Linked DNA regions of Homo sapiens. The protein of the gene in region 2 interacts with the protein of the main gene of each other region in a biochemical or structural test. Each region holds a gene or a part of one and is shown on either strand. Other genes may lie near its edges. The genes, in order: ARHGEF11, MAP7D2, APBA3, HTRA3, PDZRN3, FRMPD2 and TJP3.

The links.
Region 1: the proteins of MAP7D2 (region 2) and ARHGEF11 interact in a test that uses a peptide from one of them, tested with the Homo sapiens proteins (one large-scale study listed by IntAct).
Region 3: the proteins of MAP7D2 (region 2) and APBA3 interact in a test that uses a peptide from one of them, tested with the Homo sapiens proteins (one large-scale study listed by IntAct).
Region 4: the proteins of MAP7D2 (region 2) and HTRA3 interact in a test that uses a peptide from one of them, tested with the Homo sapiens proteins (one large-scale study listed by IntAct).
Region 5: the proteins of MAP7D2 (region 2) and PDZRN3 interact in a test that uses a peptide from one of them, tested with the Homo sapiens proteins (one large-scale study listed by IntAct).
Region 6: the proteins of MAP7D2 (region 2) and FRMPD2 interact in a test that uses a peptide from one of them, tested with the Homo sapiens proteins (one large-scale study listed by IntAct).
Region 7: the proteins of MAP7D2 (region 2) and TJP3 interact in a test that uses a peptide from one of them, tested with the Homo sapiens proteins (one large-scale study listed by IntAct).

The regions. Positions count from the first base shown.
Region 1 is NC_000001.11:156,948,243-156,951,742, reverse strand, and holds part of ARHGEF11 (rho guanine nucleotide exchange factor 11), read left to right. Parts: intron 1-43; coding exon 44-170; intron 171-1,725; exon of another isoform or gene 1,726-3,117; coding exon of another isoform or gene 3,118-3,170; intron 3,171-3,223; coding exon of another isoform or gene 3,224-3,244; coding exon 3,245-3,424; intron 3,425-3,500. UniProt on the Homo sapiens protein: May play a role in the regulation of RhoA GTPase by guanine nucleotide-binding alpha-12 (GNA12) and alpha-13 (GNA13). Acts as guanine nucleotide exchange factor (GEF) for RhoA GTPase and may act as GTPase-activating protein (GAP) for GNA12 and GNA13.
Region 2 is NC_000023.11:20,026,408-20,029,907, reverse strand, and holds part of MAP7D2 (MAP7 domain-containing protein 2), read left to right. Parts: intron 1-3,500. UniProt on the Homo sapiens protein: Microtubule-stabilizing protein that plays a role in the control of cell motility and neurite outgrowth via direct binding to the microtubule. Acts as a critical cofactor for kinesin transport.
Region 3 is NC_000019.10:3,751,693-3,755,192, reverse strand, and holds part of APBA3 (amyloid-beta A4 precursor protein-binding family A member 3), read left to right. Parts: intron 1-852; coding exon 853-998; intron 999-1,087; coding exon 1,088-1,174; intron 1,175-1,266; coding exon 1,267-1,428; intron 1,429-2,202; coding exon 2,203-2,373; intron 2,374-2,472; coding exon 2,473-2,685; intron 2,686-3,500. UniProt on the Homo sapiens protein: May modulate processing of the amyloid-beta precursor protein (APP) and hence formation of APP-beta. May enhance the activity of HIF1A in macrophages by inhibiting the activity of HIF1AN.
Region 4 is NC_000004.12:8,304,176-8,307,598, forward strand, and holds the end of HTRA3 (serine protease HTRA3 isoform 1 precursor), read left to right. Parts: intron 1-8; coding exon 9-104; intron 105-1,795; coding exon 1,796-1,961; 3' UTR 1,962-2,923; downstream 2,924-3,423. UniProt on the Homo sapiens protein: Serine protease that cleaves beta-casein/CSN2 as well as several extracellular matrix (ECM) proteoglycans such as decorin/DCN, biglycan/BGN and fibronectin/FN1.
Region 5 is NC_000003.12:73,604,442-73,607,941, reverse strand, and holds part of PDZRN3 (E3 ubiquitin-protein ligase PDZRN3), read left to right. Parts: intron 1-3,500. UniProt on the Homo sapiens protein: E3 ubiquitin-protein ligase. Plays an important role in regulating the surface level of MUSK on myotubes. Mediates the ubiquitination of MUSK, promoting its endocytosis and lysosomal degradation. Might contribute to terminal myogenic differentiation.
Region 6 is NC_000010.11:48,184,197-48,187,696, forward strand, and holds part of FRMPD2 (FERM and PDZ domain-containing protein 2), read right to left. Parts: intron 3,097-3,500; coding exon 2,996-3,096; intron 1,450-2,995; coding exon 1,357-1,449; intron 686-1,356; coding exon 578-685; intron 487-577; coding exon 370-486; intron 1-369.
Region 7 is NC_000019.10:3,714,884-3,718,383, forward strand, and holds part of TJP3 (tight junction protein ZO-3), read left to right. Parts: intron 1-3,500. UniProt on the Homo sapiens protein: TJP1, TJP2, and TJP3 are closely related scaffolding proteins that link tight junction (TJ) transmembrane proteins such as claudins, junctional adhesion molecules, and occludin to the actin cytoskeleton.

The DNA.
Region 1 (3,500 bases), on a different chromosome or scaffold from region 2:
TGAACAGCAAGCCTAGTGTCCTTCATTTTCTTTTTGCTTCTAGTCAAACCAGGCAATGTGAGGAACATCATTCAGCACTTTGAGAACAACCAGCAGTATGATGCCCCAGAACCTGGGACACAACGACTCTCGACCGGAAGCTTTCCTGAGGACCTGCTGGAGAGTGACAGGTAGCACTGGCTGGATGGGACTCGCCAGCTGCTCGAAGAGTGGGTCATGGGCAGGGCTGATGCTAGGGTTTAATTCCAGCTACTTGACCCCTCTCCACTAGCTTCTAAGGCTCCCTTTACAGAACTTCCTCCCCACCCCCAGTATCTTCAGGAGACACATTGTGTGCCAGTGAACAGGCCAGTGGAAGAGCAAGCAGATCCCCGACTTCCAGCCCAAGAACTACACACTTTTCAAATTCCCTTTGGATTTATCACCTGACTACTCAGTAGCCTTCATCCAAGATCGAGCTAGGTGATAAAAAGCAGCTAATCAGGAAACCCTAAGTGACAAGGATAAGGAAGACTATAGTGGGGGCAAGAGGGAGTCCTGGGGAAAAAAGACCCAGGCAGGCAAAAGAAAGTGGTTTCCTGTCTGTATGTGAAGAAGAGAGCCAGAGATGAGGTTCTGCTGGGTACTTTAAAGACAAATGATGTAACTATAGGCATCAGATGTCCACCTCAGCAAAGAGAGGCAAAGTGGATTGATTACAAATGGACTGTTTTTCCCTTTTCAAGAAGAAAAAGGGGAATTGAGACTGGCATCTCTCATATTCTTCTTTGGTCAGGTTCTAACTAGAGTCCCCATCTGGTATGAAAACTTGTTCTTGGACTTACTTGCTCTTGATTGTGGCATGACAGCAGTCAAGTCATGTCTAAAATTCTATAGCCAACACTTAAAAACCAACACCACCCTTAAAGGTGACTTAAACAGGTAGAGTAATATGGTCTTGTGTGGGGGGAAATAATGCTTGTGTACAGTCAAGCCTCAGAGCCACTGAGCTGGAGTATAGGCAGGCATGAAAGCAAGTCAGTATGCAGCAGCGTGGATATTCAAGCCATTTTGCCTTCGTTTGTTTGTTTGTTTGTTTTGGGGATTTTTTTTTCTTTTTTAAAGAGACAGGATCTTTCTCTGTCACCCAGGCTGGATTGCAGTGGTGCAATCATAGCTCACTGCAGCCTCAAACTCCTGGGTTCAAGGGATCCTCCCACCTCAGCCTCCTGAGTAACTAGGGATACAGGCATGCACCACTGCACCTGGCTAATTGATTTTTATTTTTATTTTTTTGAGACAGTCTCACTATGTTGCCCAGCTTGGTCTCGAACTCCCAACCACAGCAATCTTCCTGCCTCAGCCTCCCAAAGTGCTAGGATTATAGGCATGAGCCACTGCACCTGGCCTATTTTGCCTTTGAAATAACTAATTATCAAACCATAAGCCAACCTTTCCTGCTTGAATGCAGGTTACTCCTTTCTGTTTATATGAAGCCTTTTTTCAGCTTAACACGTGTTAAAAGATTTTGCTGCCATGAGAATTGACAGATTTACAGGAGACAAAGGTTAGATTTGTACTGGGGGAAGGTTGAGTTCTAACATTAATGGGTAAGTTAAATACGCAAATTATGTGATTCCTGTGGAAGCACATGATGTCGTAGATATATCAAATATTTTAAGATTATAAGACATCAACATTTTGAGAAAATATTTGAGACCATTTACAAAGTTGCATTCTTGGCATTGCTAGGTAAATTTGCCCTAAGACACTTGCTAGGATCCTAAAGCTACTCTAAGCAGAAGCCTTTGGGTTTGATGATTATCAACTCATTGGCAATCTCAGAAGAAATAGTATTAGCAATATGGTGGGTCAGAGATTGTTGTAGATACTCAACAGGTATAAGATGCCCCAGTTCTAGAAGGCAATACCCTAGGAATTTGGGGGCAAAGACAGATGATATGCCTCACTTCTTGGTGAGGAGCATTACTTACTTCTGGGTGCTTGAAGGAAGGTGCTTAGCTCTGCAGCCCCAGTAACTCCACTGGGTGTTTGTTGTGGTGGTACAGTGACCCATTAGGACACTGAAAAGTGTTCCGAGTTAGTCTGGGTTGGGATTGTTCTAACACAATTCTGGAGGGTGAATTCAATAAGGGATCAGTGGGCAGTATGTTTTCTAACCCTGCAGACAAAACCCTCAGGACCCTAGGAGATGAGCTCCATTTTGGATCATCTGGCAGTTTGGGCACAATGAATGGAGACCGAGACATTTAGCTCCTCATTGCAGCAACCTGCTGTGCTATTAAGAGCTCTGCAGACATTTCCAGGCCTCCTGTGGTCCTAGAAGCAGAGCAGGATGTAGATTACTAATAATATCAGAAAACCAGCCCAACAGGGCCACAGCATGGAGGTGGGGTGACCATCCTGGGGCAGCTAGGGGTCAGAGGTGCCAGCTGTCTTGGGCTGATGCACTGCAGGACTCGACACCGCAACACCCAGTCATCAGCATCTCATCAAACCCCAGAGACACTCAGTAGCCAAGCACGGCAGGCCAAGGAGCGGGTCCTGCCTATCAGTAAAAAGGCCCCTTTAAGCACAAGCCTGTCTGCTCTTGAGAGGAAATGGAATCTTAGGAACAGTATTGTTAAGATAAGAATGGAACTCATCCACATCACAACTGGAAGGCTAAGAATCCAGCAGCAGATAGAACTTTCTGACAGGCAGTGTGGAAAATCCTAAAATGAGCTGTGAATATAGTGACTCCACTTTCCTCTTAAGACCTCTTAAAAGAGGTTCGCCTCAGGCAGAGTTAAAGGTGGGAGCTGACCCGTTCCAAAGCAGAGGCAACGTGAACTGGCCACTAGGGGCAGGGAGCTGGGACCTTGTGTTCCCTGTTGAGGGACGATGATGTCTACCACCTTCTTGACAGAAGCATGGTGTCTCAGGCCTCTGGACACACTACAACTCAGAGTCTGTTAGCCCCAGATTTCATCTTCCTGTTAGGATCCCTTCCTAATAGCTCCAGAGGAAGATGACTGTCCATCCATCAGGCTAGGCTGGGGAGAGAGGAGGAGTTTGTAGAGCAGCAAAAATAGTCTGTCATTGAGAAGCTTCCACTGCCATCCAGCTGCTTTGGCCATGTTCAGGAGGAGAACCTGTGGCACGGAGGCATCTTTGAGATGGAGCCACAGGTAAGAGTTAGCCAGGATGTAAGCATGGCCCACTGACTTCCCAAGTCCCAAAGTCTTTTGTCCCTTCCCCCCAGTTCACGCTCAGAGATTCGCCTGGGCCGCTCTGAAAGCCTCAAGGGCCGGGAAGAGATGAAACGGTCTCGAAAGGCAGAGAACGTGCCCCGCTCTCGCAGTGATGTTGACATGGATGCTGCTGCGGAGGCTACTCGCCTGCACCAGTCAGCCTCGTCCTCTACCTCCAGCCTCTCCACCAGGTGGGCAGGGCTACAACGGCTGCACCCATGGACATCTCAGGGGTGGCGGCAAGGATAGAGGGTTGCTGAGAGTTGA
Region 2 (3,500 bases):
TCCATGTAAGCAAGTGGCAAAGCAGGATGAGCAGGAAACTTGACAGATTGTAGATAACATTGGGAACTTCTTTTTTTTAATTCTGTATTTTGTTCACTCACTGTAAAAAAAAAAAAAATCTATGACTTGCCCACACTTTTCTAATTTGAAGGTCATGTTTGTGTGTGCATACAAGTGTGTGTGTTTTCTAACTTACTCTGTTTATTGGGCAGGGGCTGGGGTCGGGGACTGTAAACAGACTTCTTAATGAGCTTTATCCCAAAGAATCCACCCTTACTTCTCAGGTAGAAGTTATTTTTAAATGTGTGCTCATGGGTAATTGGTCCAGTTTTATTTAGAATGGAACCTCGCAGTCTGTGGCGTGAACTGAACCTACATGTGACCATTCTCTTAAAACAAGCAAGGCTGTTCAGGGCTATGCCAACTTGAGGCTGTCAGAACCTCCCCCACCTAGGCCACCCTGGCCTTTTCTCCCTAGGATTAGGATCTTGTCCTGCATTTCCATTTACTTAGATGGGTCTGACATAGCCAACAGGCTCCTGCCACACTGACTGAGTGTGTGAGCCATTTAAGCAGACACAGAGGTTGTGCTGGAACTCAGATGCTGGCTATGGCTGCTGAGGCTGCAGCCAGTTCAGGCCTCCCACCCACTCCCCCCAGTCCAGCCCTGGAGACCCTTGTGGTCGGAGTCATGTCTGCAGGAAGGCTTCTTGTCTGCCTACCCATTCATGGGCAGAAGTGCCAGCACACTTCAGGGACCCCCGAAGCAGAGCCCAACTCTTTCTATACTGCTTAGAGAAGCCCAGAGTGTGGGCTCGCAGGCCAGTTCCAGGGAGAGAACAAGAACAGGCAGGGTTGTGCACACCCAGCAGCTTTGCTCATTCTCACCAATCAGAGAAATCGTACCTCATTCCACGGGGAGGAGGGTGAGGGCAAGCAAGAAGATCAGGTGAGATTTGCCAGGCCTTCCAATGCCAGAAAGTCCTCCTCAACAGGTCAAGGTAGGAATGCTTATGGGATGAGAAAGTGTTTCCATCTGTTATCATCTACCACGAGATAGTCTTTCCTACAGCCTCTATCGCCAAGTTTCAAATCCACTCCCTGCCCTTGTACTGTTGTTGGATCAAAGGACACATATCATTCACGTGACAATCCAGTGGAGAGATAATGTGCTTTGATCTTGGCAAGGCACTAGACCAAGTCTTTTGAGACACCCTCGTGGTGGTTGGGTGGCGGGTATACAGCTCTACTGTGGGCGCCACTCACCTTAGATAACAGCGTGAAAGGAAGACGTGGCCAAGCAAAAGACCACCAGCTGTATCTTTATACATATTAACTGAGACTAAATGCAGGCTCAGCTAATGTGTACAGTTAGTACACATTGTGTAACTCATTGGAAAACCATGCTCAATGGAGCACTGTCAGTGTGAGCAAGCAGGACATGGGCTCCCCTGTTATTACAGTTCATCTTCCTGGTTTTGGTTCATTCTTGTCTGTGAGGATTATTTGGATTTTTAGTTTATCATCTAATTGATCAACACCAATACCTAACAGCTATTGAGTGCCTACTCTATGCCAGTTCTATAAAGAACATCTTGGGGTCTTGGTGACCCCAAACTCAGACTTAGCTGCGCTGGCAACACAGGAAGTAGAGCAGAGCTGTAAGAAGGCTCTGTGGCTTAGTTCACTGTGGGAAGCCATTTCACCTCTCTAAGCCTAGTTTTCTCATCTGTAAAGAGGCCATGATAATAGTACCTGTGTCATACCATTTACACACATATGTACACAAATATGTGTCTGTAGACATTTAGCAGCCTAGTGGCTGGTGTGTAGACAGCACTCAGTAAACATGGACACAACTGCAGAGAGTGTGAATGGAGGTCTGAGCTCCAAATGGCCAGGGTAAGGACCTGGTCTGACTGTGTCAGAACACATGAGGACTCAACGTGCTGAATCGTAGAGGCACTCACACATTACCTCTCAAGCCAAGGCTCTCAGGAGCCTCAAGGTCACCATGGGGATTGGACACTACCCCTCCAAGCAGAACAGCTCCACTCTTACCTACTGGGTACAGACAGAGTGTGTGTGCATCTGTCTCTGTCTCTGTCTGTCTCTGTCTCTCTCTCTCTCTCTCTCTCTCTCTCTCTCTCCCCCCGCCTTCTCTCTCCCTCTCTCCCTCTCTTTCTCTCTCCCTCTCTCCCTCTCTTTCTCTCTCCCTCTCTCCCTCCCCGCCCTACCCCATGTCTCAGGGATTCTCAGTTGAGGGAGATCTTGTCCCTAAGGGGACGTTTAGCAATGTCTGAAGGCATTTTTGGTTGTCATAACCTGCGTGGGGAGCGGACTGCTGCTGGCATCTAGTGAATGGAGGCCAGGGATGCTGCTAAACATCCCACAGTGCCCAGGACAACCCCACAACAAAGCACTATCCAGCCCCAAATGTCAGTGATGCCAGGTTGAGGAAGCCTGCTCTGCGGGCGTATATGTATGGCGGGGCAGGGGGATTCTCTGCATGGCTTTTATTTGGTAAAAGTCTAGGAAAAAATAGAAGATCAGCGTTATATAGTGTACCTGGAAAAAACCACCTGATTGCTAAGCACTCTGAAAAACCACATCCCTTAGGAGAACCCGAGTGTGGGGCCTGAGCCCAAGGCCAGAGGGGAGAATAGTCTGCAGAGAGTCGAAGCACCATCCACAAAGACAAGGTGTCTTGGGAGTTCTGAGTTGCTCCAGGCCTAATGGCATGAGGACACAGGGAAGCCACTTGGCCAATATGAAAGTCCACATGCCACTTGAGGATTCTTTTCTCCTTCAAGACCAAGTTTAATATTGATCTGATCATATTTCCCCTTATTAGCAGGATCTGATTTGGTAACTCTAAGCCTCTGGTGAAAAATCGTCTTTGAATATCAGGGTGATTTGCCATTTTTATTGCTGTTTTTATAGATCAAAAAAGTCAGATATTAGCAATTCATGGTTCAACCTGCTGAGGATTGAGGGTGATGACTTGTAATTTCTGTATACATTACTTTATATCCTTCCTAGAGGAACTCTGTACAAATGCCCACATCCCTGTTCAAACCTCTAGGGAAACTGGGCATCTCAAGCTAAGCTGTTACCCCTGTCCTGAACAAGCAGCACTCACCAGGAGCCCAGCCTAGGCTGGCGTACCTGTAACGGACCCTTTCCCAGCAGACATAAGACGAGCTCCTGTGTTTTAACCAAGTGGCTTGTCCTCACCTTTTGCATCTGCCCAGTTGGGAGAAGAGAGATTCTTTTAAACCTGAGACCCTCCAAAAAACACCCCCCATCCCCATCTCTTGGCTGTGTTCCTTGGCATTTAAAAAGAAATGGGGAACCTTGAAGACTTGCTAAGTAAAATAAGCCAGACATAAAAGGACAAATACTGTGTCATTCCATTTATACGAGTCACCTGGAAGAGGCACATTCACAGAGACAGGAAGTAGAAGGGTGATTGCCAGGGGCTGAGGGGAGGGGAATGG
Region 3 (3,500 bases), on a different chromosome or scaffold from region 2:
TCTGGAGAGTATGGGAATTTTAGACAGGCAGCAGGGTCTGTCTCTGTTCTGAGTGGTTCTACAACCCGGGAACAGAGCTGCCTGCTATCCTGGGCTGACTGCAGACGGTTCTAGAACAGTGGGCAGAGCTGGCCAGTTCTAGATTGATGGAGGGAATTCCAGAACCAAGAAGCAGGGGTCCACTGTGGTTCTAGAATGTTGTGGAGGTTTCGAAATTGGAGTGGGGGGTGGAGCGTCGTGGCTCACGCCTGTCATCCCAGTACTTTAGGAGGCCAAGGCGGGTGGATCACTTGAGGTCGGGAGTTTGAGACCAGCCTGGCCAACGTGGCGAAACCCCGTCTCTACTAAAAATACAAAAACTAGCCAGGCGTGGTGGTGGGCGCCTGTAATCCCAGCTACTCATGAGACTGAGGCAGGAGAATCGTTTGAACCCAGGAAGCGGAGGTTGCAGTGAGCTGAGATCACACCACCGAGCTCCAGCCTGGGCGACAGAGCGAGACCGTGTCTCAAAAAAGCAGGAGTGGGACTGTCTGGTTCCGGCCTGATCATGGAATTCTGGGGACACGGGGTGAAGGTATCTGTGGGTGCTAGATCTGGCTTTGAATCCAGCCATGGCCTGGACTCACTGGTTTCCCACCTGCGAGTCCTTGAGGGATGGACAGAAGGTTCTAGACCTGTGAGGGCCAGGCTGCTTGGATGGTTCTAGAACAGTGGGCTGTGCTTCCTGGCTGGAGAGTGCTAAGCCACCAGCTAGAACACTGTGTCTCCCGGCCATCTCGGAGAGCGTAGCCCTGGGGCAGAGCCTGTGGGAGTGGGCCCCTGGGGGCCGACCCTCTTCGCTGTCGCCCTCAGTGCCTGGTCCCTGTGACCATGAAGACCTCCTGGACGGTGTCATATTTGGGGCCAGGTACCTGGGGTCCACCCAGCTGGTGTCGGAACGGAACCCGCCCACCAGCACGCGCATGGCCCAGGCCCGGGAGGCCATGGACCGCGTCAAGGTGAGGGGGCGGCCGGGGCCGGGCGGGCAGGCGGGTGGGCTGCAGGCTGGGTCTGTGGGGGCCTCCACCTCCCACGCCGCCACCCACAGGCCCCCGATGGGGAGACCCAGCCCATGACGGAGGTGGACCTGTTCGTCTCCACCAAGAGGATCAAGGTCTTGACAGCGGACTCCCAGGTACGGGGCAGGGACCCGCCCCAGGGATGCGGGTGGGGTGATCGAGCCTGGCACGGCCCCCCAACCCACCCAGGCTGCCTCTCCCGCCCCAGGAGGCCATGATGGACCACGCCCTGCATACCATCTCCTACACAGCCGACATCGGCTGCGTGCTGGTGCTGATGGCGCGGCGGCGGCTGGCACGGAGGCCGGCACCCCAGGACCACGGCCGCCGCCTCTACAAGATGCTCTGCCACGTATTCTACGCGGAGGACGTGAGCAGCCAGGGCGCGGGGCCACCCTCCTGAGGCCCTCCTCACTGCAACTGTCGCCTCCCTCAGTGGGCCGTGCATTTAACCTCCCTCCCATAAGCTTATTTTTAAATTCTTTTTTTGGGACAAGGTCTCCTTCTGTCACCCAGGCTGGAGTGCAGTGGCGCAATCATAGTTCACTGCAGCCTCAACCTTCCAGGCTCAAGCGATCCTCCCACTTCAGCCTCTCTAGTAGCTGGGACCACCGGGGTATCACCATGCCTGGCTAATTTTTGTATTTTTTATAGAGACACGGTCTCGCTCTGTTGCCCAGGTGAACACGGTCTCAAACTCCTGGGCTCAAGCGATCCACCCACCTCAGCCTCCCAAAGTGCTGCAATTACAGGCGTGAGCCACCGCGTCCAGCCTCCTATAAGACTCCAAGACTCTCGGCCGACTCCCCGAAACCTTGCCCGCTCCTGGGCTGTCCCTGCCACCCATGAGGCCCCAGGCCCCCTGGCTGGGTCTTTGATAGCTTTTCCCACAGCCCATGCGCAGGGAGCTGCCTCCCTCATCGTCCCCCCAGCCCAGGGCTGCCCCTCCCCTTCCTTCTCCCCGTAGATTCCCCAAGATGCGGCTGTCTCTCCACCTCCCCCAAAGCCCCAGGGCAGAAGGCTGTGTCCTGGGACTCTCACCCCAGGTGGGGACAGGAGGGCTCAGCTCTGAGGACCCTGGGGACTTTGGGGACCTGGAGGAGGTGGGTGGGACACCCCAGGGACGCGCCACTCCTCCCCGCAGGCCCAGCTCATCGCCCAGGCCATTGGCCAGGCCTTCGCCGCCGCCTACAGCCAGTTCCTACGGGAAAGCGGTATTGACCCCAGCCAGGTGGGCGTGCACCCGAGCCCAGGCGCCTGCCACCTCCATAATGGGGACCTGGACCACTTCTCCAACAGTGACAACTGCCGGGAGGTGAGTGAGGTGCTGGGCAGCCCCCACCTGGTGCCCCCCACACCCGTGCACCTGCACCGGGCCCTGCTGAGCAGCCTCCGCGCCCCCTGTGTGTCCCAGGTGCACCTCGAGAAGCGGCGAGGGGAGGGCCTGGGCGTGGCCCTGGTGGAGTCGGGCTGGGGCTCCCTGCTGCCCACAGCCGTCATCGCCAACCTGCTGCACGGGGGGCCTGCTGAGCGCTCGGGGGCCCTCAGCATCGGGGACCGCCTGACCGCCATCAACGGGACCAGCCTGGTGGGGCTGCCCCTGGCTGCGTGCCAGGCCGCTGTCCGCGTGAGTTTCCTGGTGTGGCAGGGCCCCCACACTCCCAGGAAGGGGAGCTGAGTCCCAGAGAGGTCTCCTCCCTGGCCAGGTCTCTCCAGCCCAGCCAGGAGGGACAAAGTCGAACTTTTAAGTCCTGCCCACTGGTGTGCCCTTGGGGAAACTGAGGCCTGGAGAAGGGAGGCCACTTGTCCAGGGCACCTCCCTAGTACCAGAGCCAGGATGGAAATGCGGGTGGCCCAGCTCCAGGGCTGGGCCACTCTCTCTCTCTAACAAGAAACAGCTAATTTCTGGGGGGGTTTGTTTGTTTGAGACAAGGTCTCACTCTTGCCCAGGCTGGAGTGCAGCGGTGCACCTGGCTCATTGCAGCCTTGACCTTCTGGGCTCAAGCAAATCTCCTTCCTCAGCCTCCCGAGTAGCTGGGACCACAGGTGTGCACCACCACGCCCAGTTTATTGTTTTATTTTTTGTAGAGATGGAGTCTCACTATGTTGGTTGGCCAGGCTGGTCTTGAGCTCCTGGCCTCAAGTGATCCACCTGCCTCGGCCTCCCACAGTGCTGGGATTACAGGTGTGAGCCACTGCACCTGGCCATGTTTTTGAGTCTCAACCTTTGTTGCTCAGATGGGGAAACTGAGGCCCAGAGATAGGGAGGGACCTGCCCCCGTCAGAGGAATGAGGCCACAGTCCGTGCAGCCTCTTACAGATGTTTGCAGCCTGCCTGGAGAGCCCGGCTGTCGGCTTGGCTTTTGGCCATAAGGAAGCGATATGGCTCGGGTCAGACAGCTTCGACCCCATGCCCACCGGGCCCGAGTCTGTTCTCTATCA
Region 4 (3,423 bases), on a different chromosome or scaffold from region 2:
CTTTCCAGCCTGGTGGATGAGCTGAAGGCCAGCAACCCGGACTTCCCAGAGGTCAGCAGTGGAATTTATGTGCAAGAGGTTGCGCCGAATTCACCTTCTCAGAGGTAGGCTCTGCCAGAGGAGATCGCTCGAGGCATGGGGCAGGCGTGAGGTCTGGGCTGGGGCTGCCCCACTGACCTCATGTGACCTTGAGCTTCCCAGCAAAGTGACCGGGAAGGGGCAGGTGGATTCTAGCGTGTCTGCTAAGCCAGAGGAGGCTGGAGAGCTGAATGGTCCCTAGAGCCCTGACTGTGTACGTCCTAAGTCCCACAATGTCATTTCCTTCGAGAAGCAGAGGCTGAAGAGTCCCTGTTGGGCTAAGAACCCACTCCAAGCCAGACTCTTTCACTAGCTGGGGACCAGCCTGGGTCCTGGGTCTTTCTGGGACTCAGCTTCCTCATTGTAAAGTGGAGATAATTCAGCCTATTGTTTTTTTTTTTTTTTTTTTTTTTTTTTTTTTGAGACAGTCTCCCTCTTGTTGCCCAGCCTGGAGTGCAGTGTCGCGATCTCAGCTCACTGCAACCTCTGCCTCCTGGGCTCAAGCGACTCTCCTGCCTCAGCCTTCTGAGTAGCTCAGATTACAAGTGCCCACCACCATGCCCTGCTAATTGTTTTTGTATTTTTAGTAGAGAAGGGGTTTCACCACGTTGGCCAGGCTAGTCTTGAACTGCTGACCTCAGGCGATCCACCTGCCTTGGCCTCCCAAAGTGCTGGGATTTCTACCCCCAGGAGACTTTGTAGATGAAATGGATAAAGGATTGCTTTCTTTGAAGTCTTCCAGTACTAGAGAAATGTTAAGCATTGCAACACCATAGGCTGAGGCAGGCGTGCAGCGACACTACCACATGCTGGCATGGCTGACCCACTCCCAAGAAGGGCTCTGAACCAGTTGCCTCCCCTCCTTAGCCTCGGTCTTCATCTGCAGTGGGAAAAATCCACATATAAGTGGACCCACACAGTTCAGACCCATGTTGTTCAAGGGCCGACTGTACTGTGCATCCTCAGAGGCTGGGCTTGAAGGTGGGAGGCCCCGCGTGAACTTCTGTGATGAGCACAGATGGCACACTTGTCCTGCCCGCAGCAGGCCTGCAGTAAAAATTGTTGAAATTGGGTGAAATTTTCCACACACATCTCAGTTAATCCTCACTGCAGCCAGGGAGGTGCAGGCTCCTGCCCTCACCCATTTTACAGGTGGAGGGACTGAGGTTTAGAGAAGTTACTCTTCCAGGTCACACAGCTGGCATGTGAGGGTCCTGATGCTGGTGCCCACGCAGCTGAGCACAGTACCATCACCTTCCTTCCCAGCAGTGGGGAGGTCTCAGTGAGCCTCATGCAGAGAGAAGGCTGGCCCCGTGAGCTCTGCCTCCCACATAGACGTCTTCGTAACTGCAGTAACAGCAGAACCTACTCCTGGGCCTTTATAATTTGCAAAGTGCGTTTCCACATAGGATGGTAGACATGAAAACTGAGGCACAAGGGGACAGAGTGCCTGGCCCAGCTAGGAGGGCTGCAGCGGGAGCTTGAACCCACCCTTCTGACGCATGGGAGAAGCAGTTTGAAAGGTTGTTTCCCTGTCGTGTGACATTGGTTTTCTTCTGGTGTGAGAGCTTTGGGGCTGGGGCACTGTTCTTTCCCATCGAGATGACTTTTGTTGAAATGTTGTCATTGACCCTGACTGTGCCTCGCTCTGGGCCGGGCCTGGGAAGGCTGTGCCTGGGGAGGCGGTGGGTGGTGACCCCGTCTCTCCTGTTGGCAGAGGCGGCATCCAAGATGGTGACATCATCGTCAAGGTCAACGGGCGTCCTCTAGTGGACTCGAGTGAGCTGCAGGAGGCCGTGCTGACCGAGTCTCCTCTCCTACTGGAGGTGCGGCGGGGGAACGACGACCTCCTCTTCAGCATCGCACCTGAGGTGGTCATGTGAGGGGCGCATTCCTCCAGCGCCAAGCGTCAGAGCCTGCAGACAACGGAGGGCAGCGCCCCCCCGAGATCAGGACGAAGGACCACCGTCGGTCCTCAGCAGGGCGGCAGCCTCCTCCTGGCTGTCCGGGGCAGAGCGGAGGCTGGGCTTGGCCAGGGGCCCGAATTTCCGCCTGGGGAGTGTTGGATCCACATCCCGGTGCCGGGGAGGGAAGCCCAACATCCCCTTGTACAGATGATCCTGAAAGTCACTTCCAAGTTCTCCGGATATTCACAAAACTGCCTTCCATGGAGGTCCCCTCCTCTCCTAGCTTCCCGCCTCTGCCCCTGTGAACACCCATCTGCAGTATCCCCTGCTCCTGCCCCTCCTACTGCAGGTCTGGGCTGCCAAGCTTCTTCCCCCCTGACAAACGCCCACCTGACCTGAGGCCCCAGCTTCCCTCTGCCCTAGGACTTACCAAGCTGTAGGGCCAGGGCTGCTGCCTGCCAGCCTGGGGTCCCTGGAGGACAGGTCACATCTGATCCCTTTGGGGTGCGGGGGTGGGGTCCAGCCCAGAGCAGGCACTGAGTGAATGCCCCCTGGCTGCGGAGCTGAGCCCCGCCCTGCCATGAGGTTTTCCTCCCCAGGCAGGCAGGAGGCCGCGGGGAGCACGTGGAAAGTTGGCTGCTGCCTGGGGAAGCTTCTCCTCCCCAAGGCGGCCATGGGGCAGCCTGCAGAGGACAGTGGACGTGGAGCTGCGGGGTGTGAGGACTGAGCCGGCTTCCCCTTCCCACGCAGCTCTGGGATGCAGCAGCCGCTCGCATGGAAGTGCCGCCCAGAGGCATGCAGGCTGCTGGGCACCACCCCCTCATCCAGGGAACGAGTGTGTCTCAAGGGGCATTTGTGAGCTTTGCTGTAAATGGATTCCCAGTGTTGCTTGTACTGTATGTTTCTCTACTGTATGGAAAATAAAGTTTACAAGCACACGGTTCTCAGCCAGCAGGGCACTGGGGCAGCCTACCCACCACTGGCCAGGGTTCTTCCTGGGGACCCATCTAACACATGACTGGGCATACCTGCAAAGACACGGGCCTTTAAAGGGTTTCTATGACAGCTGAGCACTGGGGCACACCAGGTCTCGGGGTCATGTGGCGCTGTGGAGGGCCAGCTCCGAGTCAGGCAGCCCGGCTCAAGTCCTGGCTCCTCCGCTTACTTCCGGCTTCGTGGTCTTGGGCAAGAGATGTTCCCCTCCCTACCTTGGCCTCTGCCTCTGTCCAGCAGGAAGGCTGGCTCTGCTGTGCTGACCTCCTGGATGCCCTGGGATGCAAGGTGACAGATGCAGCACTTGGGAAGCCACCCGGCTTACGGGGAGCTCCCACTAAGCCCCACTGTGCACGTCTGGTCACATGAAGAACCCTTTCTCACATCTATTTCACCCTCCCTGCCACCCATCCAGCGATGGGGAAACTGAGGCAGAGAGCAATTT
Region 5 (3,500 bases), on a different chromosome or scaffold from region 2:
CTTTTCTTTTCCTGACCATCTCCTTGTTTATTAGCTTAAAAGGAAAGTAGTTAAAGGAAAAGAAAACAAAAATCTTTCATTCAACAAATAAGTATTGAACATAGGCTGTTTGCTAAGGGCCAGGAGATACAATGGAGGCCAGAAAGACTGAGGCCCTGTGGTCATTGAGTCCTGGTGGGGATGTCAGACAAGAAACAAGTGAATACAATAATTAGAGATTGGATTGGAAGAAGTATGATGAAGGAAAAAAAAATGGGAGGATGGCACATGGCAGATACCAGCCAAGAAGCAAAGGGTATCATTAGCTTGGGTTATCAGGAAAGACAAGAGGAGATAGTAGTAAACAGAAACCTAAAGGACGAGAAGATGCCAGCCATCCAGATAGGAATAGTGTGTGCCCTGCCCTCATGGAGCTCACCTCCAGATGGAGAGACTGATGAGTTGGGAGAGCATAGCACTGCTCTCATTGATGTACTCTGTGCCTGCCCACAGCTAATGATGCCCTGGGATGAGTTAACCCTGCGGGAGGAGGTGTCCTGGGGAGGGGCCGTTGGAGCTGAGTTCAGAAGGTTGAACAGGAATTTGCTAGATCAGAGGACCATATTTTATTTGTATATATAATGTGTACACAGTACCAAACGAATACATTATGTGCCTTATAAAAAGTTACGTACAAAAGGGAGTATTTTAAATAATGAAATTAAAATATGACTATGAAGAAAATGTGAAGTATGTTCTCCTGCCATTCCAATGCATTGTGTTACACGCATTCACCTGTGAAGACCCCTGAGCTAGAAGAAAGCGGTTGGACGCTGGGGTTTTGCAGGGGTGGGGATTGGCGCTCATACAAGGCCTGGAGCAGGAACAGAGTTGGGAACTGGGGGAGCTGCAAGTAAGCAGAGTGTGGAAAGAGTTGAGGGATGGGCAGGGAAGTGGCCAGAAAGAGGCCTGGTGAAGAAAACAAGGGCTTGACCCCAAAGGGCCTAAGTCTTGAGTCTGGGATTTAAATTACCTAGGGCGGGAGTGGCCAACACATGGCTTCAGTTGAAGGGAATGACACAAAGAGATTTATGATTAAATTCCCTTTGCTTTTAGCCCATTCCACAGTTTCAAAAAGAAACAAACAATGGCTTATTATAAGAAACAACAACTTAATTATGTGTTTGCAGTTGTTAAAATGATGAACATTATCTGTCTTATCAAACATACATATAAAAAAGAACATTTTAAATGGTGAGACTAAATTGTAAATATGAAGGTAGATGGGGACAGGGATAATTCCCACTTTATTGAGCCCCAGGGATGTCATCACATGGTTGTATTTCTTGCATTCGCTCTGTGGAATTCTTAAAAAACTATAGAACCGCGTGAGGTTGGTATATTTTTATTTTTTCCTTTTACCAGTTGTCTGAGATCCCAGGCTGCATGTCATCATGTGCTGTTCTGATTTAGTCCTTGCTGCCAGGGGTCCTCCGTACTCTCCAGCCTTCGGAGGGACTGAGGGAGCAAACTGCACTCAAATATCTAGACATTTGGCTCCAGGAAGCAGCAGGGTCAGACTTGAGCCCGTGGTTCAGAACATGAGCCCATGTTCTACAACTTACCATCAAGAACATGTTTTGCCATTTAGCACAGATGAGTTGGCTGTTCCTTGTTTACATTCATAATTATTCCTCCACCCTTTGTTACCAGTTTTGAGAAACAACTTTAATAAATTAAGATTCACTTCACAATTAGGTGTTTCACAAGCTATAGCAAACAAAAGAACCCAAACCAAGAAGACCTATTCCCTGCCCCAGGTCTAAACCACACCAAAGCCTACTGTTGGAAATTGCTCAAAATGGAGAGGCCTGTGGCCAAGTGATTGTTGGGAAACCTACTGTGTTAAAGCCAGTGAAGATGGTGTTCAGTTTCCACACTCACCAGGTGCAAAATGACATTCCAACCCCACTGGAATACAGTTCTTCCCTGTGCTTATCAAAGAGCATGTCTAAGTTATTTTCTTTTTCTTTTTTACAAAAGGTGCTTTAAGTACAAGCCAGACCTGATTTTGTAGCTTGCATTAGTATTTTCAATTTATGTGGTCTTTTTGCAAGAACTGCCTGCATGGTCCCCAGAGGAAAATTTAATTCCATGTGCATGTGTTTGCCATAGTGTTTTTCAAAATTTGCCCTGATTAGCAGAAATAGCATCATGAAACCTGAATGTATTCTGCACTGTTGCCTGGAAAATCTGGCAGGTCATTGAGTACATGCTAAAAAGCCAAGATGAGCAACAATGCACACACGTTGTTAGTTACTAGAAGAATACAGTACAAATGATGTCTGTGTTTCCCAAGGAATTCCTGTGTTAGATGCTTGGTTGGGTTGTGAAATAGCCCAGCCATAGCTCTGACATAAGGCTTTTCATTGCATGATCAGTATGCAATACTCTTAGCAAAATCATATCATTCATTTGTTAGTCCTCATAACCCTAAAGAAACAGCAGCTAGTCTGTTGTATCAAACCTCTCACTTAAGCCTTTGGGAAGTGTACTTTATCGTTAGGTACCCTTGCTATGAAAACAATCCCCTTTCATTTCTCTCTTACTCAAGGCAGCAAAACAAAATAAATTCCAAGTCATATTAGTTCACCTTGATAAATAGCTGTAACTAACTCTCTTAGGAGAGGAGCCAAACAAACTAAGAATAAAGAGATGCCTTTTAAGAGAGAAATCTAGCTTTTTTTTTTTTTTTGAGACGGGGGTCTCACTCTGTCACCCAGGTTGGAGTGCAACGGCACAATCTTGGCTCACTGCAACCTCTGCCTCCCAGGCTCAAGCCATCCTCCCACCTCAGCCTCCCAAGTAGCTGGGACCATAAATGCTCGGCTAAATTTTTGTATTGCTAGAGATGGGGTTTCACCATGTTGTTCAGGCTGGTCTTGAATTCCTGAGCTCAGGCGATCCACCAGCCTCGGCCTCCCAAAGTGCTGGGATTGCAGGTGTGAGCTGCCATGCCTGGCCTGCTTTATGTGCTTTTTGCATCCTTCCCCACCCCTCACCACTGTCTCAGTTTAATCTCACTGCTGGTGTTTGTTCTTGCTTCTTCCTCTCTGATTTTTGCTTGAACTTTCTAGTACTCCTTAAGAGTTATTACTTATGTGCAATGTGGTATTTTGCAAAACAAACGAAAGCCAAAATCCTATCCCCTATCTCCCTCTTTCTCTCCAGCCAAGAAATGCAAAGTGGTTAAATCAGAGTAAACACAGATCTCTTTTCATTTGATATATTGACATCACCTCTTAGGGAACTCAAGCTTGTTCATAAATCTTTTGTGGTCCATTGAGACTCTTCAAGTTCATCTAGTGGAATATTCCATAGCCTGAAATGTTGGACTTCTGAATTCCTGTGTGTTTTGAGTTTTCTCAGTGGGAGACAATATTGCACACAGAGCATGTAATGTGCAAGAGGATCCGCTTCGCCTCAGTTTGAAACTGAGCCATACCACTTTTTAGCTGTGT
Region 6 (3,500 bases), on a different chromosome or scaffold from region 2:
TTCTATACAAAATATAGAAATCCTGGAGCCGACCCTATCAACAAGGACTTTGGGTGGCAATAAAAAGGTCCTCCCTGCCATGCAAGGAGAGTTGACAGAAAAAAAAAGACTGGTTGTATCCAGCCGTGTCTAACAAAATTAGAGTAGGTTACTCCCTTTCAGCAAGACAAGCATGGTAACGCCCATTCTGCCCCTGAAATTGCAAAGCTTATTAATTTGTGCCACTACACTGCTTCTTTGCAAGCCAACACCATGAGGAAAGCAATATAGAAGACCTACGTGGACTTCAAGGTCTAGTACCTCACAGTAATCATGTACTCCTGAAAACAGGGGAGCCTCTTAAGCTCCCAAGAGTGGGTTAAAACATACCTTTTGACTGAGAAATAATTAATTCTATGTTGTCAGGGGAATTCTGGATCATCCTAACAGCCATGTTGAATGTGAAGCCCTCCAGACTGATGTGATTCAGGGCTAGTATCTGCCCTCCTAGAAAAATAAAACATCTCAATAATCCTTCAAGGAAATAAAAAAGAGTGGTTTCTTAAAACAGCATCTCTAGTAATTTAAAAAGATGTACCTGGTTTGATCGTTTTTGCTTTTTCTGCTGGTCCTCCAGGTATAATAGAAGATATAAAAATGCCAGGGTCAGCTTGGCCTGAATACTCTCCCTCATTAATGACAAACCCTGTAATCCAAGATGATAGTCCATGATAAGATGATACTTAGTGATTTTGCTGTTCAGAGAGGTTAGGTTATTTCCCTCATATCACACAGCTACCAAGTGGCATTAGCTGATAGTTACAGTCAGGTCTTCTGATCCTCAAATAGAGGATCTTTTCTACTTTACCATGATACTTGGAGAAAGGTGGATTGTTCCCCATTAGTAAGCACAGCTAAAGCTAGGAATACAAACCACCAATATGCACTGGATTTTGCTCCAGTAGATAATGAGACATAGGAAAGAAATGATTTTTAATCAAGTACCTTGTCTCCGTACCTTGTTTCTTCTACAGTTTTTCGGGTCTTAGAAAGTGGTCACTAGTAAGAGGTGAGATAAATTGACTCTTCTTCCCCATAGCTGACTAGAGGAATGTTGTTACATGGTATTAGGGGAAAAAATCTTTTTCTGCATTGTACTTAGATGCACCCCAAAAAGAAAAACTTGGAAACAAAAGTCCCATTGCTCTTTAGGAACAATTAAAGGGAGAAAAAAAACAGAAGTGATTACCAGAAAAGGCAGACTGGGAGAGGAGGGATAGGAAAGGGGAGTAGGCAAGTTGAAAGGGAAAACAGTACCCACCTCCCCACTTTGCCCAGCAGTAGAGACTGGGCCTCACCTACAGGGAGCCCTCTTACCAAAACCACGATGTGGGTCACGTTTCAGTGTCACACGTACAATTTCTCGGCCCGGTTCAGCTATAAAGCTCTTCCTCCTATTATTCTTTGAGCCTAGAGGTAGAATCAGAGCACCACATTGTGCTTTTCCCCCAAATTATTTGGGAGCTAATACAAAAGGAGTAAACAGCATTTCACACACATGCGCGCACACACATTCACACGCACACAATCCTGAAAACAAAAGTAGCTCATATTTAATCTCCCAGCAGTGCTGGGAATGGACACCTGAACACACACTCACATGAGCCTCTCTGGAGTGTCACTCAGTGTTGCTCAAGTTCCAGCTTAAAGAGCAGAGGCAAGAACAGGATGGGCTATGGTGCTTGTTTTCTGTATGACTTACTGTAGCTATTTTTTTCCGCATTGGTTTTGGGACAAGACAGAGGATGAGCAGAGATGTATTAATAATTGCTGAGAGTCAAAACAAAAACAAAAGCTAAAACAGAGGTGAGACAGTAAAGCCTTCCCATCCCAGGCCTCAAATAACCAGGGGTGACAAGGTGCCAGCAGCCCAGCCTGTGTGACCTGTGGTCTTCCCCTGGCTTGGATCATGGAGGAGCCCCAGGCAGAGCCCTGAAGCTGTTCCTGGAGAGCTGGAGTCCTGGAGTGGGGCACTTCAGTGTGTGCCACAGTGTACTTGGGAAAATCCCCAAATGGTGACCCACCACTTCAGTCCTTCCATGTCTCTCCCTCCCCCAGGGACCTTGGCAGAAATTGGCAGACAAGTTACTTGTAAAGAGTTGCCTGGCAGTTTTCCTGATTGATATGGTTTGGCTGTGTCCCCACCCAAATCTCAACTTGAATTGTATCTCCCAGAATTCCTGCATGCTGTGGGAGGGACCCAGGGGGAAGTAACTGAATCACGGGGGCTGGTCTTTCCCATGCTATTCTCGTGATAGTGAATAAGTCTCACGAGATCTGATGGGTTTATCCGGGGTTTCCGCTTTTGTTTCTTCCTCATTTTTCTCTTGCTGCCATCATGTAAGAAGTGCCTTTCACCTCCCACCGTGATTCTGAGGCCTCCCCAGCCATGTGGAACTGTAAGTCCAATTAAACCTCTTTTTCTTCCCAGTCTTGGGTATGTCTTTATCAGCAGCGTGAAAACGCACTAATACACTGATCCAACCCTCAGGCTTAATGCTCACTGAGTAGAGATATTTTTCCAAGTGTCGGATCTCTTTGTCCTCACATTCAACAGGGAACTGGCCAGGAGGATGCATGGCTGAAGGGACTGCCATCTACTCTGTGTATGTTTTCTGGTGAATACTGGGAGGTGATGTTCTGGCCTGCATAAAGAAGCATATCTACAGTGAATGGTGCCTTTTTCTGAACACACCCTCCATAGCAGGTATTCTTCCTTCTGGACAAGAGTGCTGGGATTGTCTTCGCCAGAGCTGACACATTTCAGATCCTCATACCCAGCCAAAGCTAAACGCCTCTTCCCAATCACAAGTAGTTTAAAAAGAAAACAATTCAAAAAACAAGAAGGTTACAAACATTGTGTGGGAAGCAAAAATAAGTGGTGGTAAAAGACTCAAAGCAAGCTTCCTGCGTAGGGGTTCCTCCACCCAAGACCTGGTCGTGGCCTGGCCCATACCTGCATGCATGCTCTGAACAGGTGGTCCAGAGAGAGAGTCCCAGGTCATTGGCTTCTGGATCACACAGGCACTCTTCAGCTGCTCCCGGCCAGTGCAGGGGCTGCCGGGAAAAGAAAATGAGGTTAGATAAGGTGGCCCACGGGGAAGGACAGTGAGGTTAGATAAGGTGGCTCAGGGAGGCAACTTCTTGGCATTTCTGAGTATGGATGATGGCCCGGGGAGGGCAGCCTTGTGTCCAGTCATCCAGCAGCTCCTCAGAGGGACCCCATCGAGGGCTGATCTAGTTATTAGGAGGACACTGGGAAAAATGGCTGTAGGATCTTTATGTCTCAGAGGGGACACTGAGGTAACTCTGGCTTCATATGAGCCTCCTACTATGTGCAAGATACGTGATCCTGTAAACCTCCATTTTTTCAACCATAAAATAAGAATAACATTCCTACTTCCCAGGCTTCTAAGGGAACTGAAATGAGATAGTAAGTGTCAAACACCAGCACTCTTAGT
Region 7 (3,500 bases), on a different chromosome or scaffold from region 2:
CGCTGGTTCCCAATCACACGTCATATACTTGGCTTGCAACAGTTTTGTTGACTGAGTGACTGAATGCACAGAAGAATTAAGGCACAAATGAAGTAGATTGCTGAAAAGCAGATTTTCTCTTTTTTTCCTTTTCTTTTTGCTATTATTATTTTTACTTCGTGAGGCAACAGTAGAAAACCAGGTTTTTTGTTTGTTTGTTTGGTTGGTTGGTTTTTTTTTTTTTTGAGATGGAGTCTCGCTCTGTCGCCCAGGCTGGAGCGCAGTGGCGCAATCTCGGCTCACTGCAACCTCCGCCTCCCGGGTTCACGCCATTCTCCTGCCTCAGCCTCCCGAGTAGCTGGGACTACAGGCGCCCGCCACCACACCCAGCTATATTTTTGTATTTTTAGTAGAGATGGGGTTTCACCGTGTTATCCAGGATGGTCTCGATCTCCTGACCTCGTGATCCGCCCGCCTCGGCCTCCCAAAGTGCTGGGATTACAGGTGTGAGCCACCGCGCCCGGCCAAAAGCAGGTTTTTAATTCATTAAGGTGATCCGAAGGTCAGGGGTGGTGGGAATAAGGGGCTTAAGGCTATGCCCATCTCCAAAGCCTTGGATTTGAACCCAGGTTTGGAGGATGGTACTAGGGAGCCATCGAGTGTTCTTGAGCAGGGCATGGATATGAGAGCAGACGGTGGGTGGTTGGAGGAAGACAATGTGTCCTGGTGCAGTTATCCAGCTTCCTCTCTTAGAGGGGTTGACAGTGGGATTTCTCTGCGTTGCCCATTGACATTTGGGGCCAGATCCTTCTCTGGGATGGGGCCATTCTGGGCAATGCAGGGTGCTTAGCAGTATCCCTGGCCTCCACTCACTCATGCCAGGAGAACCTTCCAGGTTTATTTTTTTATTGTTTCATTTTATTTTATTTTTTTGAGTTGGAGTCTCGCTCTTGTCATCCAGGCTGGAGTGCAATGGCGCAATCTCGGCTCACTACAGCCTCTGCCTCCTGGGTTCAAGCAACTCTCCTGCCTCGGCCTCCCGAGTAGCTGGGATTACAGGCACCCACCACCACACTCGGCTAATTTTTGTATTTTTAGTAGAGATGGGGTTTCCCCATGTTGGCCAGGCTGGTCTCGAACTCCTGACCTCACGTGATCCACCCACCTCAGCCTCCCGAAGTGCTGGGATTACAGGCGTGAGCCACCACGCCCGACTTGTTTTATTTTTGAGATGGAGTCTTGCTCCATTGCCCAGGCTGGAGTGCAGTGGCGCCATCTCAGATCACTGCGACCTCTGCCTCCCGGGTTCAAGTGATTCTCCTGCCTCAGCCTCCCGAGTAGCAGGGATTACAGGTGCCTGTCACTACGCCCAGCTAATTTCTGTATTTTGAGTAGAGACGGGGTTTCACCCTGTTGGCCAGGCTGCTCTCGAACTATTGACCTCAAGTGATCCGCCCATCTCAGCCTCTCAAAGTGCTGGAATTACAGGTGTGAGTCACCGCGCTCGGCCTGGTATTGAACACCAAAATGTCTCAAGACGTTGCCAAGGGTCCCCCTCTGGTGAGAGGCACTGGCTTGGAGTTCGAGGTGCAGGGGCAAACAGAGCTGCAGCCAAATCCCTCAGGCCAGCTCACCATCTGGCCTCAGTTTTCTCAGCTGCAAAGTGGGCGCACGAGTGTTGTGTGTAACTGGGGCTGCAGCCAAGCATATGCCAGTAAACATGGCCCGGGAGCCCCATTCACTGCTAGGACTTTAACCCACTTATTTCTTTATTTATTTTTGAGACAGCGTCTAGCTCTGTCACCCAGGCTGGAGTGCAAGGGCAAGATCATGGATCACTGCAGCCTCGACCTCCTGGGCTCAAATGATCCTCCCACTTCAGCGCCTAGAGGTGCCTGCTACCACACCCAGCTCATACATATATATATATATATATATATTTTTTTTTTTTTTTTGAAACAGAGTCTCAGTCTGTCGCCCAGGTTGGAGACAGTGGCACGATCTCGGCTCACTGCACCCTCTGCCTCCCAGGTTCAAGTGATTCTCCTGCCTCAGCCTCCCGAGTACCTGGGATTACAGGCGGGTGCCAACACGCCCAGGTGACTTTTTTTTTTTTTTTTGAGACGGAGTTTCGCTCTTGTTGCCCAGGCTGGAGTGCAATGGCCCGATTTCGGCTCACTGCAACCTCCGCCTCCCGGGCTCAAGCAATTCTCTTGCCTCAGCCTCTCTAGTAGCTGGGATTACAGGCATGTGCCACCACACCCAGCTAATTTTGTATTTTTAGTAGAGACGAGGTTTCTCCATGTTGGTCAGGCTGGTCTCGAACTCCCAACCTCAGGTGATCCGCCCGCCTCGACCTCCCAAAGTGCTGGGATTACAGGCACGAGCCACCACGCCTGGCCCATGACTGTTATATTTTTAGTACAGACAGAGTTTCACCATGTTGGCCAGGCTGGTCTCAAACTCCTGACCTCAAGTGATTCGGCCGCCTTGGCCATCCAAAGTGGGATTACAGGCGTGAGCCACTGTGCCCAGCCATAGCTTATATATATATATATATATATATAATTTTATTTTTTTTTGAAACATAGTGTTGTGCTGTCTGCCCTGTCACCCAGGCTGGAGTGCAGTGGCGTGATCTCAGCTCACTGCAACCGCCGCCTCCCAGGGTCAAGTGATTCTCTTGCCTCAGCCTCCTGAGTAGCTGGGATTACAGGCGCCTGCCACCATCCTTGGCTAATTTTTCGTATTTTTGTAGAGATGGGTTTTGCCCTGTGGGCCAGGCTGGCCTCCAACTCCTGACTCAAGTGATCCTCCTGCCTTGGCCTCCCAGAGTGCTGGGATGACAGGCATGAGCCACTGCACCCTGCCTAAGATATTTTTAAAAATTTTTGTGGATGTGGAGATGGGGGTCTCACTGTGTTGCCCAGGAATGAGAGTACAGTGGTGTGACCATGACTTACTGCAGCCTCCACCGCCTGGGCTCAAGCAATCCTCCCAGCTCAGCTTCCCAAGTAGCTGGGAGTACAGGCAAGTGCCACCAAGACTGGCTAATTAAAAAAAAAAAAAAAGGCCGGGCACGATGGCTCACGCCTATAATCCCAGCACTTAGGGAGGCCGAGGGGGGCGGATCACAAGGTCAGGAGTTTGAGACCATCCTGGCTAACACGGTGAAACCCCATCTCTACTAAAAGTACAAAAATCAGCCGGGCATGTGCCTGTAGTCCCAGCTACTCGGGAGGCTGAGGCAGGAGAATGGCGTGAACCCGGGAAGCAGAGCTTGCAGTGAGCTGAGATTGCGCCTGGGCAACAGGGCGAGACTCCAACTCAAAAAAAAAAAAAAAAAAAAAGTGTGTGTGTGTGTGTGTGTGTGTGTGTGTGTGTGTGTGTGTGTCTGTGTGTGTGTAGAGATGGAAGTCTCACTCTGTTACTCAGGCTGGTCTCTCCTGGCCTCAAGAGATCCTCCCGCCTCGGCCTTCCAAAGTGCTGGGACTACAAGCGTGAGCCACTGTTCCTGGCCA